Linked DNA regions of Homo sapiens. The protein of the gene in region 1 interacts with the protein of each later gene in a pairwise test. Each region holds a gene or a part of one and is shown in the gene's direction. Other genes may lie near its edges. The genes, in order: MAP3K20, RPS6KA5 and ZNF33A.

What was found.
Region 2: the proteins of MAP3K20 (region 1) and RPS6KA5 interact in binary tests that used the Homo sapiens proteins (3 or more experiments, as listed by UniProt).
Region 3: the proteins of MAP3K20 (region 1) and ZNF33A interact in a two-hybrid assay, tested with the Homo sapiens proteins (one study listed by BioGRID).

Annotation. Positions count from the first base shown.
Region 1 is NC_000002.12:173,078,811-173,085,933, forward strand, and holds part of MAP3K20 (mitogen-activated protein kinase kinase kinase 20), read left to right. Parts: intron 1-7,123. UniProt on the Homo sapiens protein: Stress-activated component of a protein kinase signal transduction cascade that promotes programmed cell death in response to various stress, such as ribosomal stress, osmotic shock and ionizing radiation.
Region 2 is NC_000014.9:90,896,520-90,903,642, reverse strand, and holds part of RPS6KA5 (ribosomal protein S6 kinase alpha-5), read left to right. Parts: intron 1-673; coding exon 674-835; intron 836-2,906; coding exon 2,907-3,032; intron 3,033-3,401; coding exon 3,402-3,535; intron 3,536-4,220; coding exon 4,221-4,314; intron 4,315-7,123. UniProt on the Homo sapiens protein: Serine/threonine-protein kinase that is required for the mitogen or stress-induced phosphorylation of the transcription factors CREB1 and ATF1 and for the regulation of the transcription factors RELA, STAT3 and ETV1/ER81, and that contributes to gene activation by histone phosphorylation and functions in the regulation of inflammatory genes.
Region 3 is NC_000010.11:38,055,630-38,060,665, forward strand, and holds the end of ZNF33A (zinc finger protein 33A), read left to right. Parts: coding exon 1-931; 3' UTR 932-4,458; downstream 4,459-5,036. UniProt on the Homo sapiens protein: May be involved in transcriptional regulation.

The DNA of each region.
Region 1 (7,123 bases):
AGGAGGAGGCAGAATGTTATTAACAAAAAGACATGATATGGTAGAAAACAATGATATGACTTTGGAGTCAGGCCTGAATTTGACACAAGTTGTGTCACCTGTAAGGTAGTTGGCTTGAGCTACTTTCATACCCCTGATCCTCAGTTTTCTCACTCATGTAAGTTAGGAACAGTAGTACCTGCTTCCTAAGGATAAGTACAGTCATGTGTCCATTAATGATGGGGATACGTTCTGAGAGAACTGTGTTGTTACGTGATGTTGTAGTTGTGTAAATACCACAGCGTGCACCTACACAAACCTAGATGCTATAGCCTACTACACACCTAGGCTGTGTGAGATAGTCCGTTGCTCCTAGGCTACAGACCTATGTAGCATGCTGCTATACTGAATAGGCAGTTGTAACACAGTAATAAGTATTTCTATCGAAAAATAGAAAAGGCACAGTAAAAATACAGTATAAAATATACAGTATCAAAGATAAAAAATGGTACACCCGTATAGGGCATTTACCATGAATGGAGGTTGCAGGACTGGAAGTTGTTTGGGGCAAGTCAGTGAGTGAGTGGTGAGGGAATGTGAAGGCCCAGGACATCACTGTACACTACTGTAGACTTTATAAACACTGTACACTTAGGCTCTACTAGATTTATTTAAACATTTTTCTTCAATAATAAATTAACCTTAGCTTGCTGTAACTTTCTTGTTTTATAAACTTTAAACTTTTTTTTAACTTTTTGAGTCTTTTGAAATAACACTTAGCTTAAAACACAAACACATTGTACAGCTATACAAAAATTCTTTATATCCTTATTCTGTAAGATTTTTTTTCTATTTTTAAATTTAAAAAAAAATTTGTTTTGCTTCTTAAACTTTGTTAAAAACTAAGACAGAAACACACACATCAGCCTAGCCCCACATGGGGTTAGGATCGTCAATATCACTGTTTTCTACCTCCACATCTTGGCTCACTGGAAGGTCTTCAGGGGCAGTAATGTATATGGAGCTGCCATCTCCCCATCTCCAGTGATAACAATGCCTTCTTCTGGACACCTCCTGAAGGACCTGCCTCAGTTAATTTTCTTTTTTTTTTTTTTAAGTGGAAAGAGTATGCTCTAAAATGAGGATAAAAAGTATAGTAAATACATAAATGAGTAACACAGTCATTATCCTTATCAAGCATTGTGCACTGTACATAATTGTATGTGCCGTACCTTTATACAGCTGGCAGCATAATAAGTTTGTTTACACCAGCATCACCACAAACACATGAGTAATGCATTGTGCTATGATGTTAGGAAACTGTGCCATCACTCAGCAATAGGAATTTTTCAGCTTTATTACAATCTTATGGGATCGCTGTTATATATGCAGTCCATTGTTGACTAAAGCATAGTTATGTGGTGCATGACTTTATGAGAAAGCACATAGAAATGCTTGTAACAGTGCCTGAAATTTCAGCCACTGTATCAATGTGGTAAAGAAGGATGTTTTACTACATCTCTCAAGTTATACGCAGAGCTGCTTGCCCACTGTCCTAGTCTGTTTTCTGCTGCTAGAGCAGTCTGTCACAGCCTGGGTAATTTACAAGGAACAAGGGTAATTTATTTGGCTCATGGTTCTGGAGCCTGGGAAGTCCAGGTACATGGCTCTGGCATCTGGCGAGAATCACCCATTGTGGAAGGGTGGAAGGCGAAAGCAAGCCATGAAAGACAAAGAGAAAAAGTGAACTCCTGAGATAATTAACCTACTCCCAGGATAACAGTGAGAATCCATTTATGACCTAATCACCTCTTAAAGGTTCTGCTTCCCAGTACTGTTACATTAGCGATTAAGTAATTAAGTTTCAACATGAATTTTGGTGGGAGCATTCCTACCATAGCACTCAGCTCTTCCAGCTAAGGCTTGCCTTTGGTACCCTGTCCTGTTCCCAAGTTATACTTATGTAGTGGGTATGTAGGTTTTCATAACTACTCTCCTGCTTTGAGTATAAGTGTTTCTAAAGTGTGCTTTAGAACCACTTGGAACCATTTTTATAGCTAATTTTGAGCAAGGCCCCAATACCCTTCTTTCTGGACTCATCTCCAGGCTTCCATTTAAGAAAACCAAAAAGAAAAGGAAAGAATTGCTGTCTGCACGTCATGTAATAAATCTTTACTTATTAAACTTTTCTACCAAAGTACTCTATTGTGGGGATAAATGAATGTTTTCCTTCAAGAATTTGTCCGTATAGCCACAGATACCCCAATGCAAGCAAGTACTTGCTTTAAAATTTTATATTTAATCTTAAAAATTTATGTGGATTTTGCATTCTCTTCTGTCCTACACTGTTTTACTTAAATTGAACAAATCGATACAGACACATATTTTAAAAAAGACAAATTTTTTTTTTTTTTTTTTTTAGAAACAGAGTCTTGCTATGTTGTCCAGGCTGGCCTTGAACTCCTGTGCTCTAGCAATCCTCCCACCTGAACTTTCCCTGTAGCTGGGGCTGAGGGTATGTGCTACCTTGCCTGGCTTATTCCCCATAGTGTTAAAGTGAAATTGATGCTGTAGGACAGCTGTTTATTCATATCACCTTCTGCACAGTACTGTGTAATACCACGTATGGGAATAAGCACACGAGGAACATGGGATTGGTCCTAATAAAGAGTCCTGCACCATTAAGCTCTGCAGCCCAATACTGCATGGGGTAGTGCAATTCCATTTTGCTGATAAAAGAATAGGGGTAGATCATCATCCAAAGAGTTTTGATGTTAGGTGGTTATACGATGGCTTTCAAGACAAAGAGATCTCTTTGCTTTGGGAATTGGGGGGAAGGAAGAGGAAAGTTTTAGGATAGAAACCTGGAATGTGGCTCTTAGCTTCTCACCCAGTTTGGGAGGAGAAATTGAAGAAGATGGCCAAATCGTTTCCTTTATTTCCATCACTGATGTGGTTCACTGTGCTTCTCCATGATGTTTGGTGTCGGGTTCATGACTGCTTCCCTCAGAAAAGGAGGGAGACCGTCTATACTTTATAGTAGATTAGTCATCAACTCAACAGGGTTGGAGTGGGTCTTAAAGTGGTTTCATTCTGCCCTCTTAGCTGATGCAAGAGTCTCCCACTCCCACTCTACACCGCATATCCCATTGAACGCTCTTGGTGATGGGTCACTCACTACTAAAGAGGGTGGCAGATTTTCTTGTTGGCCAACTCTAAACCAGGAATCCTTTGTTTTTTTTTTGGAGACAGGGTCTCACTTTGTGCAGTGGCATAATCATAGCTTATGGCAACCTTGAACTCTTGGGCCCAAGCTATCCTCCCACCTCAGTCTCTTGAGTAGCAGGGACTACAGGCATGAACCACCACACCTGGCTAATTTTTATTTATTCATTTTTTGTACAGATGGGATCTCACTATGCTGCCCAAGTTGGTCTTAAATGCCTGACCTCAAGCGATACTCCCACTTTGGCCTCCCAAAGAACCAGAAATTCTTTCTGTAACTTTCATCCACAGATAGCCTTGCCTCTTGATCATCAAAACATAATATAAGGTCTTAGTCTTCCCTAGTTTTACCATCCCCATTCCTTTCACCCTTCATCTTACATTGAGGTTACCATGTTTTAACTCTTGCATTCACCCTTCTCAGGGAGTATTCATTCCAGGCACTCAGTCCAAAGTTGTACCTGTCTGTCAGCAGCCAGGATGGTCTGATACTTTCTATTTGACAGAAAACGATTTGGGGTACAAACAAGGGCTGAGTAGCAGCAAGACCTAGGGTGGGGGCAGGATAGGTGGGAGGTAGCGAACTGAAGTGAGCCTTGTTTACTCATAGGCTACGGCTTTCTCCTCATCCCCAGTCCTGACACCTGTGAATTCCTCTTCTGGCCAAGCCCTAGAAATCTCCCCTCTCCGTGCACCCTCACTTTATTCAACTCTGGCCCCATTCTCTTCCTCATGCTGCAAGAAGCTCCCAGCTACTCAACACAACAAGCCCACGCAGCGGCCTATGCCGTGGCCGTAGGTTGTATCCACTTCATGTTTCCTTGTTGGGCTTCTGTTTGAGCACAGACATGTTTCCACGCAGCATTTCTGTGGCGTTAAGTGCTCCCACCAACTACATTCCTGTGCCTCCCATCTTTTACTTCTGGTAACAATACTTTTGGTAAGGAAGTGTGTTGTGGAAGTTGACTTTTATTAAATTACTTTAATTATTTCAATAAGAATGCCTCACTACTAAATTACTTTAATATTTCAATAAGAATGTTTAGCTTATTTTTATTCTTACCATTGCTCTAACTAGAGAGTTACATTACTTTTATATGGTAAAGATAGAGGAAGGGGGAAAATATGAAACAATGGCTATTCTGTTTTTTGGATTCTTATTTAAAGTTGGGTTCTCTCAGATATCTATGCCTGAAGTCCTATTTACTGAACCCAACCTACTCTGTATAAGATACACTATTTTTCTAGGAGCAGCCTTGGAGGAAGAAAGGAAATATCTGGTAGATACAGTACAAGTTGGTTCTGTTCCTATACCTAGTCTTGCAACTTTTATTTTTTTATTTTTTATTTTTTTTTTTTGAGACAGAGTCTCACTGTCACCCAGGCTGGAGTGCAGTGGCGTAATCATAGCTCACTGCAGCCTCGACCTCCTGGGCTCAAGCGATCCTCCTGCCTCAGCCTTGCAGAGTGCTGGGATTACAGGTGTGAGCCACTGTACCCAGCCAGCTTTTATCTTTTTTAGTGATTAAAAAAAAATAGTAGAACAGCAGTCCTGTTGAGGAATAGAATCTTTGAATCTTTGACCTTGGTGTTACGGACAAATACACTGAACCAGAGCTTTCCTCATTTTTTTGAAGATAAGACTCAGGGGAAAAAAATTGCAGAACAGTGATTCCAAGTGGTGTTCTTTTTATACACATGATGACAAAGCACATATTATTAATTTATTCACTGATCTATGTTAAAGAGGCTGAAATAATACTAGCATAAATATCAAGGCAGCAAGTTTGGCAAAATAATTTGCTGAATATTGAAAGCTCTTTTCAAAAAGTATCTTTTTTGTCACATCCAGGTCATGATAAAACGTGTAAGTTTTTCTTCCTATATTGTATAAAAAGTAAACTGGCAACCTTACTTTTTGAAGAAGGGGGAAAGGAAAGTATGAATTAGGGACAGGAAAAGAGGAAGGCTCTAAATTCAGAAATATAGGCCCATATAAAACCACAAGATAGAAACATCCAGAGAAAGTTCAAAGACCTTTTTTCTAGTAAAGTTAATCCTTTCATAAAGTAGGTTTTTATTTTTACTTTTAGAAATGAGATCTCCCTATGTTGCCCCAGCTGAGCTCAAGTGATCCTCCAACCTCTGCTTCCCAAAATGCTGGGATTGCAGGTGTGAGCCACTGTGCCCGGCCAAAGTAGATTTAATTTTTTTTAAAAAATCATCACTTGCAGGTATTGGATAATCAGGTTAAGTTTTCTTGGGTTAGACGTGCAATTGACTGTGCAGCAGATAATGTCTGAAAGAAGACCGTGGTCACTGGGGAAGGAGGGGATGCTCCAGCACCCTACCAAAGTGAGTGCTATCATTGAATAAATAGATCTTAGCAATGCTAATGTCCAAAAAGTGCAAAAAAAAAAAAAGAAAAGTATTGTGTTTTAGCAATTTAAATACATTATGAAAAAAGCTTAAAAGAAATTATAATTACTTACTAATAAGATCTTTCAGAAATGACAAAAACCAAAAACGGCAGTTAAACAGAGGAATGAGAAAGAATTAGAAAATAGGCAAAGAGAGGGAAAGGATTCAGGGATCAATAGCACCTTTATTTGTTAATAATTGCTCTACAAAACTAAGAGATATAATATAAAACAATTCTGAAAATGGGGAGAGGAAAGCTATTGAGAGCATACCTGACCATAAAAACTGAAGGAATAGATGGCTAAATATGATATCAAGGGTTATTAAAATAATGAGAAAACCATAATTTCCATTAATTGCATGTATACCATATACTAGGCACTGTGCTCACGTATGCACTTTCACAGCACTGGTATTATTGCCAGTGAGAACAGTGAGGTCAGAGAGACACAGTGCCTTGCCCAAGTAGCTAATAACAGATCTGCTCATAGATCTCTCTAGTAGGGGTCTTTACCCTGAATCATGCTACTTCCCTGTTGAAATATCTCTTATTTGGAAGTGAGATGTATCAATGAAGTCAAATACTATGCAAACTTGATAACTTTGGGGCTATCAGTTTTGTGACATTGAATGGAAAAGATTTGAAATTTTTTATTTATGCATCTGGAAATGCCACAGTCTGAGAAAAAGTGATTTGTTAAAGTTACCGAGAGGTGGAGGGAGAGTTCAAACTCCTATCAATCTAATTCTAAAACCTTGCTTTTTAACATTAGAACTGTAGTGGGGTCATTTTTGTTTTTAATTTGGGGCAAAAGTAACAGTGAAAAGGTAAATGACTTATTTGAGGTCAACATGGATCTGAAAAATCAAGAAGCAAAATAGAAGGTCTGTGAATAGAGAAACTTAAGTCTATTTTTTTGGACTAGAAGATTGAAAACTTTAAAAAGTAAAATAATTCTTTAAGATTTCCTACCTTCTTATGTTTCCACTTTTCATAATTAGGTGATGCTGCTATATATGCTTTCAGCAATTTGGTTAATAGTTAAATGTTTTTGAATTTTAATTTAAGGAAAACTTTAAATTAAAAATTTTTTGACATTCTACTCAAGTAGTGAAATGATTGGATTCAACCACCAAATTATTGATTTTCAACATTTACAGAGTTGTGATGCCTTATTTTACTTTGATTTTTGTGACATTTCTGCTCTAACTTACCCTTCAGTATTGTATGGTAGATACTTAACATTTAAAACAGCTTTGAGAGTTTATAAAACAACAGTTAGAATCCTACAAAACTAAAACTGAGCATTGTTGCGTGGAGCAAAATTGCCTTTTTTGTGTAAAAGCAATTTTTTTTTTTTTTTTTTTTTTTTTTTTTGAGATAGAGCCTTGCTCTGTTGTCCAGGCTGGAGTGCAGTGGTGCGATCTTGGCTCACAGTAACCTCTGCCTCTACGGTTCGAGCAATTCTCCTGCCTCAACCTCCCAGGTAGCTGTGAT
Region 2 (7,123 bases), on another chromosome or scaffold:
TATAACTCAGTAAGTGACCTAGAGGGAAAAGGGGCTTGCATTATTCTATGGGGGACATAAGAGGCAGTGTTTAAAATGCTTGAACACAGTTGAATAAGAAAAGAGTGATCACATCCATATGATGGTATCATTTGAACTTCTAGACATAAGCACATGCCTGATTTACAGTGGATTTATTTTCCAGTCTGTCTGGATGCCCAGGAGGAAAAGCAAGTGCAGGCAGAGAGCTAAGTAACACTGCCTCTAGAAAATAGGAACATTCTTTTAGAGCTAATATCCACATCTGTAGAGCCTTTGGAAACCCTTTATTTCAGTTTTTTATTTTGTTTTGGGTTTTTTGTTTTCTTTTTGGCTTAACACCTTTCTGAGGAGGCTCAGGACAAAAGTATTCTTCTGTTGTCTTTAAAGGTAAACTAGGGTGTCTTGGTGCCCCCCAGAGGACACTCTGAGATTCAACAGCGATAGTCTCATCTTTGAGGCACAGCATTGGTTGGAGCTATAAACTGCTGTGATCTTGTTTGGAGAAAATATGTTTTTTATTATTGATTTGAAATATGTTCTCTTATTTTTATCCTCTCTCCCTACCAGTCAAAATCCTAATTTATCTTTGTTATTCTTAGAAAGTACATTTTGACTATTGATTTCTACTTTGTACCAACTTTCTTTGTTTTAGAAAATAAATTGGGATGATTTAGCCGCCAAAAAAGTGCCTGCACCATTTAAGCCAGTCATTCGAGATGAATTAGATGTGAGTAACTTTGCAGAAGAGTTCACAGAAATGGATCCCACTTATTCTCCCGCAGCCCTGCCCCAGAGTTCTGAGAAGCTGTTTCAGGTAATTTCCCATCCTGTGCACATGCACATTGGCCATATGTCCTTTGAAAGAAAAGATTAAATTTCCCATATTGAAGTAGTTTTGTTGGCATCATAAAAATGGGATTCTCTAATATCCTCTAAATTATTAAATGCAGAAATATTGCACATTGTTAACCGAAGCTTATAGTTTGCTCAATAGCAGATATTGTTTATGCATTTATTTTTGATATAAGGGAAGTTTTAATTTTATACCTGAAATTTTATTTTTGTTCAGATTCTTTTATAGAAAATACAATAATCTTTTATTTTACCTCTATTCATATTTAAAAATTTTTATTTATATAGACAGGGTCTCACTCTGATGCCCAGACTGGAGTGTAGCAGTGCTGTCCTAGCTCACTGCAGCCTCAGACTCCTGGGCTCAAGTGATCCTCTCACCTTAGCCTCTGGGATAGCTGAGACCACAGGTGCAAACCAGCACACCCAGCTAATTTTTCTATTTTTTGCAGAGATAGGATCTTGCTATGTTGCCTAAGCTGGTCTTGAACTCCTGGCCTCAAGTGATCCTCCTGCCTTGGCCTCCCAAAGTGCTGGCATTACAGGCATGAGCCACCACGTCCAGCCAAAAAAATTTTTTTTTTTTAAGAAACAAGGTCTCACTCTGTCACCCAGGCTGGAGTGCAGTGGCATGATCATAGCTCACTGCAGCCTTTTTAACTGCTTGGCTCAGGGGATCCTCTTGCCTCAGCCTCCTGAATAGCTGGGACCACAGGTGCATGCCACCACACCCACCTAATTAAAAAAAAATTGTAGAAACAGGGTCTTACTTTGTTGCCTAAGCTGGTCTTGAACTCTGGCCTCAAGCGATCCTCCTGCCTTGGCCTCCCAAAGTGCTGGGATTCTAGGCATGAGCCACCGTGCCCCTCAACCCCCATATAAAAACATTCTTTAGTTCACAATGTTACCTTATTCTTTACCTTCAGTAATTAATCTTAACTGCTGTTAAAAAAAGATTTAGATTTTATATTTAGAAAAGGGCATTTGTCACACAAGATAAAATATTCTAACTATTAAATGGCATCAGAGCTTTGCTTCTTTGACTTCTATAAGTATACCTTTAGTATGGCTTAATCTGGCCATCCAGACGGTGTCTTTTCTTCTTTGCTTATCACTGTCTAGTATGTGACTGGGCACTTATTGAACATTTTTTTAAATGTTTGTTGATTAGTGAATGTTCTAGCTTGAACGGATTAATCATCCGTCTTTGTACCACTTAGCTCAGAGCATCATTCTGCCATTAGACTTTGTTCCTTTCCAAAACTCAATTTTAAATTTAATTATTCTGAAGATATTAATAAGAATCAAATAATTGCTAAATTAGAAACTAACTTTAGTGAGACTTGCCATTTTTCCAGTTTGAAAAACAATAGCATTTAAAGACCACTTTGTGGCTGGGTCTGGTGGCTCAGGCCTTTAATCCCAGCACTTTTGGAGGCCGAGGTGGGTTGATCACTTGAGGTCAGGGGTTTGAGACCAGTTCGAGACATGGTGAAACCCCGTCAGGCATGGTGGCATGTGCCTATAATCCCAGCTACTTGGGAGGCTGAGGCAGGAGAATGGCTTGAACGCAGGAGGCAGAAGTTGCAGTGAGCCAAGATCGCACCACTGCACTCCAGCCTGGGCAACAGAGCCAGACTCAATCTCAAAAAAAAAAGACCACTTTGTTTAATACCTTGACTGTATCCTTTTTTGAGAAGTTAGTTATGTTTGTAAACAAATTTCATCAGCAAACCAGGAGAATTTCATCTATGAGTCTGATTTTGGGGGTGGAATAGGGAAGAAGTCTTTTTCTACCTTTATTTTTGAATTGGTTTAGTTCTACCAGAAGATGGCATTATATCCTTCTGAACAGCATTTTTCAAATGATTTGAAATAACCTTGCATTTTAGATTGCAAATAAAATAAAATTAGACTCATCTCAACAAATATTTGAGTGTTTTTCTAAGGAAAAAAAGTCATTACAATCTAATCTGTGTTAAACTGGAAAACTGCAAGTTGTTTTTCTTTATCTTTCTTTGTCTTGTTTTTAGGGCTATTCCTTTGTTGCTCCTTCCATCCTATTCAAGCGTAATGCAGCTGTCATAGACCCTCTTCAGTTTCACATGGGAGTTGAACGTCCTGGAGTGACAAATGTTGCCAGGAGTGCAATGATGAAGGTATATAGATGTGGTAACTTATATGACATATTTGTAGGTTTTGTGAGTGTTTAAATACCAACTCTAATTAATGTTCTTAAGTCTAGTAATTCAACTAAAGTGCAATTTTAAAAGTGGGATATAGCAATATTTTCCCTAGAGAATTAACGTCAAGTTGAATGAACTTCTTTTTACAATTATAGAGAATTATGTATCTTAAATAATTATTTAGATGAAAATAGAAGTTACCTATAAAGATGAATTTTAGATTATAAATGTATTCTATTCCTGTTTATTAATATTAATAATTTTATTTTACTCTACAATTTTATTGATCCTTTGTGTATTACTGACATTTTCTGAAGTTAAATGATGTTGATTTCTTGACAGGACTCTCCATTCTATCAACACTATGACCTAGATTTGAAGGACAAACCCCTGGGAGAAGGTAGTTTTTCAATTTGTCGAAAGTGTGTGCATAAAAAAAGTAACCAAGCTTTTGCAGTCAAAATAATCAGCAAAAGGTATGACCATTTTTAATATAATATTCTTTCTTAGGTATTCATGAATTCTGTAAATTAAAAGATATTTATTTTAATTGAAACCAGTATTATATTGTAAGACTTTCTTACCCAAAGGTTTAACCACTTGGCTCATCAGTTGGTCCATTATACTTTTAGCTCTAATTGATATTTTCTGATAAAGTAATCCATTTTAGACATAAATCATAGTCTTATTTGCTTTTGAGTTTATCTAGAGAAAACGTCTTTGTGACAGTGACATATTTAATCAGGCTCACATAGTGATTTTGGCAGCCATTGCCATTTCTACTAGTTGTGTATTTGAAATATTTTTCTCTAAAATTATTTAGCAAGCTACTGATAGCTTTGAGAGCCATCTAGTTGTTTTGGTAACTGATGATTATTATTAAGATTGCATATTCTTATTACTCTAAATTGTCAGGAAAGTAGAGCATTCATTTCCTCATATGATTTGTACTTTTCTGACTCAGAAATAATAATTTTCTCCAGAATATTACTTTTTCTAGTGTGTGGTATAATTCATTACTTTCATGGAAACCTCATTACAGTATACTGTAACATGTATATTCTGAATGCACTGTAAATAAGACAAAATTAGTCTTGGGGCAGTACTGATATAAAAACTTTCTTGAAGAGACATGTGGATGCTAAGTGTCTCATCTTGCAGGATGGAAGCCAATACTCAAAAGGAAATAACAGCTCTGAAACTCTGTGAAGGACACCCCAATATTGTGAAGTTGCATGAAGTTTTTCATGATCAGGTATCCTACTTTTTTTTTTTTTTTTTCCCATGTGTACTAATTCACTTACAGGGTTGTACTTTTCACGCGTTTTGTTGGTGCTGCTGGGTCAGAGTCAGGGATATAGAACATCACCCAGCCACCAGAAAGGGCAGTGAAACCACCCTCTCAAACCCCTCCCCAACCACACACTGTTTCCCAACCCCAAATCAGGTTATCCCTTCACCTCTCATGCTTTTCTCACTCAGCAGTTAACCACCTATGACAGGAAGACGGAGGGCCAGGAGCTCAGTGGTGCAGTCACTGGCTACAATGTGCTTGTTGCCAGTGCCGCTTCTACCCACCATCACTTAATCCTGGAGTACCTCTCAGGACTCAGGAATTTTGAGCCTCCAACTTCCCTTTCACTTCTAGAGTAAAACTGAGAGAGCCTGGAGCCTAATTAATGCAAGCTAAAGGACAAATAGGAAGCAGAAAGCAAAGATACTCCTTTTATCTTCTAGCTCCAGGTGGTAAATTCTGCTCAGAACCCTGGCCAGATCATGCTGCCCCCTCTTCTGCTCTCAGTCCTGCTTTGCAGCAGGAACTATGGGAGGATGCCAGTGTGTCCAGTTCGTGTCTGTTCACCTCACACATGACAGAAATTGCTCCATTACACTTCTCTGCCCCTGAGACCAGGTGGGGTGATGCAGTCCTACTTAAGACAACTTGGAGGCACAAGAGCACAAACCAATCCTGAATGTGCTTTGCCCTAATTTTACCAATAAAGAAACTGAGATTTTGAATGTTCATAAAACTTGTCTAAGGTCACATAGCATGTCAATGCGAATCTAATAAGGAGAACCTGTACTCCAGTTCTGGGCTCTCTTTGTTGTGCTGTTGTAATATCTGTGACCTAGGATCGATGGGGCCCAGTTCTCTACCACATTGAAATATCCTCGAGTGCTATTGCCAGGAATGATACATCATGGTGAGACCAGGCAGCAGCAGCAGTAGCACCATAACCATAATAGCTGCTGCCATTTATTATCACATATCTTGTGTGGTCTAGGTTCTGTACCAGGCACTCTGCATGTATTGTCTTATTCAGTCCTTACCATAGGTCCATGAGGTGAGAAAATGGACACTCATAGAAGTTAAGTAACAGGTCTTACAGTTGGTAAGTGTGGTAAGGCTGGGATCTGAATCCACACAGTCCAACTTCAGAGCCCAACAAGCTTTTATTTACTTTAAACTACTGCCTTAGGGAAGGCAGAATCACATCTGGCAGTAAGCATCCCAAAATGGCATCATCCTCTACTCACTCTTTGGTTCTTGTAGTCAGAAAAGAAATGCCACTGAAGCAAGGACTCAGGGGGAACCGCTCTCCCTGATCCTCTACCTCCTCTTGCCTCATCAAGCCACTCGACACAAGAGGAGGTAATGAGTCCCCTGGCCACGAAGGTGCTTAAGAAGAGGCTCACTAGACAGTCTCCTGTTGAAGATGATATAGAGGAAATTCACATCATTCAAGGAATCAACGGGTGATCTTAGATGCTCTCCTCTGGGTTTGCAGCTGTGCCCATAACTACATCCCAGACAAGATACTTGATCTCTGACCTTCAGACTAATGTCAGGTCCCATGAACAACATTTCTAATTTTTTATTTGTGTCACAAATTAAGTAGATGTTTTGCTATTTATATATTCAGGAGTTACTAAAATATAAATTGTCACATGATATAATCCTATACAAACTAGTATAAATACATTATCAATCTAATATGCAGTTGTAATGTATCTTGGGTTTTCTCATAATGGTGGCACAGTTGCCTAGATCATCCCTGTATCCAGTCTTTTCTTCAACTAATGGGTGAAATTGGTTATGGTGGGTCTTCAGCCTTTGTGCAATAGCATAGTTCATTTTGTGTGCCATGATATGCGTTTCACGTACTCCATGAGTTTGCTATTGCTGCTGCAACAAATCACCACAAACTTAAAACAATACAAATTTATTATCCTGCAGTCTGGAGGTCAGAAGTCCAAAATCAGGCCCATTGGCTTAAAGTCAAGCTGTCACCAGAGCTGGTTCCCTCTTGAGCAGAACCAGGTGCACAGCGGGAGGTGAGTGGCAGGTGAGCCAGCATTACTGCCTGAACTCCACCTCTTGGCAGATCAGCGACAGCCTTAGATTCTCACTGGAGTACAAACTCTATTGTGAACTGCGCATGGCGAGGGATCAAAGTTGCAGCACTCCTTATAAGAATCTAATGCCTGTCCCACCCCACTACTGCCTCCCCTCGTCCATGGAAAAATTGCCTTCCGTGAAACCATTTCCTGGTGCCAAAAAAGTTGCGGACCTGGCTCATGCCTGTAATTCCAGCACTTTGGGAAGGTGAGGCAGGTGGATCACTTGAGGTCAGGAGTTTGAGACCAGTCTGGCCAACATGGTGAGACCCTATCTCTACCAAAAAATACAAAAAATTAGTCAGGCGTGGTGTTGTGCGCCTGTAGTCCTAGCTACTCTGGAGGCTGAGGTGGGATAATCCGTTGAACTTGGGAGGCGGAGGTTGCAGTGAGCCAAGACTGCACCACTGCACTCCAGCCTGGGTGATAGAGTGAGACCCTGTCTCAAAAAAATAAGAAAACAAAAAAGAAAAAAAATGTTGAGGATCACTGCTCTGGAGGCTCTAAGGGACAACCCATTTACTTTCCTTTTGTAGCTTCTAGACACCCCCCAACATTTCCTTGGCTGTGAGCCTTCCATGCATCACTCTAAGATCTTGCCTCCAGGGTCTCATCTCATACTGCTAACTCTGATGAATAATTCAGGATAATCTCACATCTCAAGC
Region 3 (5,036 bases), on another chromosome or scaffold:
TGGGAAAACTTTCTACCACAAGTCATTACTCACCAGGCATCAGATAATTCATACAGGGTGGAAACCTTATGAATGTTATGAATGTGGGAAAACCTTCTGCTTGAAGTCAGACCTCACAGTACATCAGAGAACACACACAGGGCAGAAACCCTTTGCATGTCCCGAATGTGGGAAATTCTTTAGCCATAAGTCAACCCTCTCTCAACATTATAGAACACACACAGGGGAGAAACCCTACGAATGTCATGAATGTGGAAAAATCTTTTACAATAAATCATACCTAACTAAACATAATAGAACACATACAGGGGAGAAACCCTATGAATGTAATGAATGTGGAAAAGCCTTCTACCAGAAGTCACAACTCACTCAGCATCAGAGAATTCACATAGGGGAGAAACCCTATAAATGTAATGAGTGTGGAAAAGCTTTCTGCCATAAGTCAGCTCTAATTGTACATCAGAGAACCCATACACAAGAAAAGCCCTATAAATGTAATGAATGTGGAAAATCTTTCTGTGTAAAATCAGGACTTATTTTCCATGAGAGAAAGCACACGGGGGAGAAACCCTATGAATGCAATGAATGTGGGAAATTCTTCAGGCACAAATCATCACTCACAGTACATCACAGGGCTCACACAGGAGAGAAATCTTGTCAATGTAATGAATGTGGAAAAATCTTTTACCGTAAATCGGAACTTGCTCAACATCAGAGATCACATACAGGGGAAAAGCCCTATGAATGTAACACATGCAGGAAAACTTTCTCTCAAAAGTCAAATCTCATTGTACATCAGAGAAGACATATAGGAGAAAACCTTATGAATGAAATGGATATTAGAAATTTCCAGCCACAAGTCAGCCTCCATAATGCCTCAGAGTATTCACACTGTGGAGAAAGCCCTGATGACATCCTGAATGTTCAGTAACTATCCACAAACTCACCTTATGTTACTCCAAAGTAATAGTAGGGGATAAACCCATAGACTACAACAATTATAGGACAGCTTTTGTTAGGAAGTGATATTCTATGTAATATCAGATGGTTAATACGGGCATAACACCTTACAGATTTTTTTTGAATTTGTGAAAGTTTTTGGCAAAAATGCAAATAAGGTTATGTTAGAATTTACACTGAGGAGAAAATTGTCAATTTAAGAAATCTAAAGTGAAAATTTTGCTTAGAAATAAAATACGACAAGTTATGTTTTGAGTTTGATGCCATAATAGTTTTTAGGGCACCTAACAATAATTTATAGATGTATATTGTGGAATGTAAAGCTTTAAGAACTTAAACAAAGGTAATAATTAAAATAACCTCACAAGAAGTTTAATGAGTAGAGAGAATTCCCATGTACACTTCACCAAACTTCCTCTAAGGATAATGTATAATCATAGTATATGGTCAAGTCCAAGAAATCGATGTTACCTTGCTGGTAGATAGAGACTTAGTCAGATTTTACTATGGTTTGCATGCACTCTGTGTGTGTGTGTACGTGTATGTGTGTGTGTGTGGTTATATCAAACTTTTACGACTTTTACATTTGAGTAACCATCAACACGATTAGTTTACAGAACTGAAAAGGAATCTGAGATCTGTACTGTATCAGGATTACAAAGGATTTAGCCTCAAGTAGTTCCCTTTTTGTATTAATAACCACACGCTTTCTGCAACCCTATCCCTTGCATCCACTTGACTATGAAGTTTTTTTAAAGCACAGATAAATTGAATAATCAGGGCAATAGCATTAAGCACATCTGCGAATTATCCCTGAAGTTCAAAAGACTTATATATGTATAAGTGGTATGTGATATAAATCGTGTGTTTCATATGCATAATGGAATTTAACGTAATTGTGAATAGGAAGTAGGTATCCTAGTTTAGTAGTGGTTACATTATCAGGCCCATCCCAGATGTTTGTGATGTCCTGAAACAATTTAAAAGGAGACCCACAGAGCTAATGTTTATCCATTTAAAAGGTATAAATCAAAATAACAAATTATCTAAAAAAAATCTATCCTGTACATGTGAAGATCTAGGCTCGCCTCCATGTTACTCCCTTTCTCTTCCTACCTGTGGCTCATGCCATGCCATGAAGTGCCTAGGGTACATATGTGAACATTCCAGCCTTCAGCATAAGTGGTAGTCCAAATTTTCTTTAAGCAGCTGCTCTCCAAGACAGGGCCCTGGAAAGGCCCACACATACAGCCCAGGGCTGCCCAGGGCTGTTGGACTGTCATTTCAAGGCTCATTGTCCCCAGACAGGGATCTGGGCCCTCAGACTTTTGAGAATATGAAGAGGAGGGTTGAGGCTGGAGCAGAACCAGAATCAAGCTGGTGTGGGGCTTTTATTGATAGTGTGAAGATTGTACACTATATTACATGATCAGATCATACAAATAATCTAAGATTATACAGTCTAGTGATCCTAGATTACACAAGTAATCTAAGCTTCCACTTTAGGAAACTAGAAAAAGAAGAGCAAATTAAATCCAAAGTAACCTGAAAAAACATTAGAGTAAAAATCATTGAAATTGAAAAGAGAAAATCGATAAAACCCAAAACTGGTTCCTTGAAAAGGTCAGTAAAATTGATAAACCTCTAGCTAGCTTAAGAACAAACAGAAGACAAATATTGCTAATACCAAAAATGAAAGAGGCCATCACAGCTAATCCTATGGTCACCAAAAGGATTAGAAAGAAACATGGACAACTCTGTCCATAAATTTGATAACTTAGCTAAAATGGACCAATTCCTTGCAAGACGCATTCTCTCAAAGCTCACACAAGATAGACCTCAATAGGCATATGTATCTATTAAATAAACCAAAGCAGTAATTAATAACCTTCCAAGGCCAGGTACAGTGGTTCATGCCTGTAATCCCAGCACTTCACTTTGGGAGGCTGAGGCGGGTGGATCACAAGGTCAGGAGTTCGAGACCAGCCTGGTCAACATGGTGAAACCCCCTATCTACTAAAAATACAAAAAATTAGCTGGGCATGGTGGCATGCGTGTGTAGTCGAAGCTACTCAGGAGGCTGAGGCAGAAGAATCACTTGAACCTGGGAGGTGGATGTTGCAGTGAGCTGAGATTGTGCCACTGTACTGCAGCCTGGGTGACAGAATGAGACTGCATCTCAAAAAATAATAATGAAACTTTCCAAAACAAAGTGCCAGGACCAGCTGGGTTCACTGATGTGTTTTTGAGATACTTAAGGTAGAAATGATACCAAGTCTCTACCATCTCTTTCAGAAAATAAAAGCAGAGATAACACTTCCCAACTCATTTTGTGAGGCCAGTATTACCCTAATAGCAAAACCAGGCAAAGATATTACAAGAAAGGAAAACTACAGATCAATATTTCCATTGAACACAGATGCAGAAATCCTCAAAATATTAGCAAATCAGGAATGCAAGGCTTGTTCAACATTTGATATTCAGTGTAATCCATTGCATGCATTAGCAGCTCAAAGATGAAATACGATCATATCAATAGGTACAGAAAAAGCATTTGACAAAATCCAATATCCATTCATGTTAAAACCTCTCAACACAGAAGGAATACAGGAGAACTTACTCAAGTTGGTAAAGAACATACTACAAAAAACCCTACAGCTAACATTATCCTTGATGTTTCCAACTAGACACTTTCCTACTAAGATCAGGAACATGGCAAGGAACACCACACCACTGCTTTTCAGCATTGTACTGGAAGTGCTATATAATGCAGTGTTAAAAAAAAAAGAAATAAAATGCACATAGATTTGAAAGGATGAAATACAACTTTGTTCACAAGTAACATGATTGTCTTTGTAGAGAATTCTAAATAACAAAAACCCTGCTGACATTAATAAGCAATTACAGCAGGATTGCAGGATACAGTCCTCAGGTAGATGATAAAAAGGAATTGGACATCAAGTCATTAAAAGACACGGAGAAACCCTAAATGCTTATTGTTAAGTGAAAACCAATCTGAAAAGGCTTTCTATTTTGTATGATTGCAATTATATGACATTTTGGGAGAGGCAAAACTATTGAGCCAGTGAAAGGACCAGTGGTTGCTGAGAGTTGAGGGGAAAGGAGGGATGGCAGGTAGAGAGGTGATTTTTAAGGCAGTGAAAGTACTCTCTAGGGTACTGTAATTTGTCAAAACGCAGAGAATGGAAAACAGTGAACGGAAAACACAGAGTAAACCCTAATGTCAACTCTGGACTTCAGTTAATAATAATGTATCACTGTTGGCTCATTAATTGTAACAAATGAACCATAATGATGCAAGATGTTAATGATTGGGGAGCCTGTGGAAGATGGGAGGGGAAAGGGTTATATGAGAATTCTCTATACTTTTTGCTCAACTTTCTGTAACCCTAAAGCTACTCTAAAAAATGAAGTGTATCAAGTAAATAAATAACCAACCAACCAACCCTGAGGAACATCTTGTTTCTGTACTAAGGTGTTCTTTTGTTAGTTGTATGTTTCTGACTGAACATGTAAATCATCATTAGTGAACAATTGAATTGCTTTTGTACATCCTTAATATATTTTAAATTATGGTAACTGTGACCTGAAATTAAGGACTAGTATTTTTGGTTCTCTTGACATCTGAAGCCAATAGGGCCTCAAATGACCTAACCTCATTTCCATCCCCACTCTGCTTCCACAGGTGAGGTAACTTAGCAGACAGTCCTCCTTGTCAGGGGGGCCAGGCACAATTCCTGCTTATTCCTAAGTAGTAAGATTTGCTTCCCTGCCAGCTCTTGGAATTATCACCAAACCCCTCACATCCTCCCACAGCAAACAGTGGTCACTGTACTCTGGATAATACAGCTGCTCGCCACAACCCCTCCTTTTCCACTCTGCTCCCTAGTCGAACCCTGTGTGGCTCTTCCCAGCATGTGGTGTCCTTCTCACCTTTCTGAGAGTTGGTGTGACTGACAAACTCACCTAGATCTTATCTGTCCAGTGTCAGGCGTTCAGTGTTCAACCTTTCTATAGCATTGGGGTGGGGATCCTTCCTTCACCATCAGGGTGAA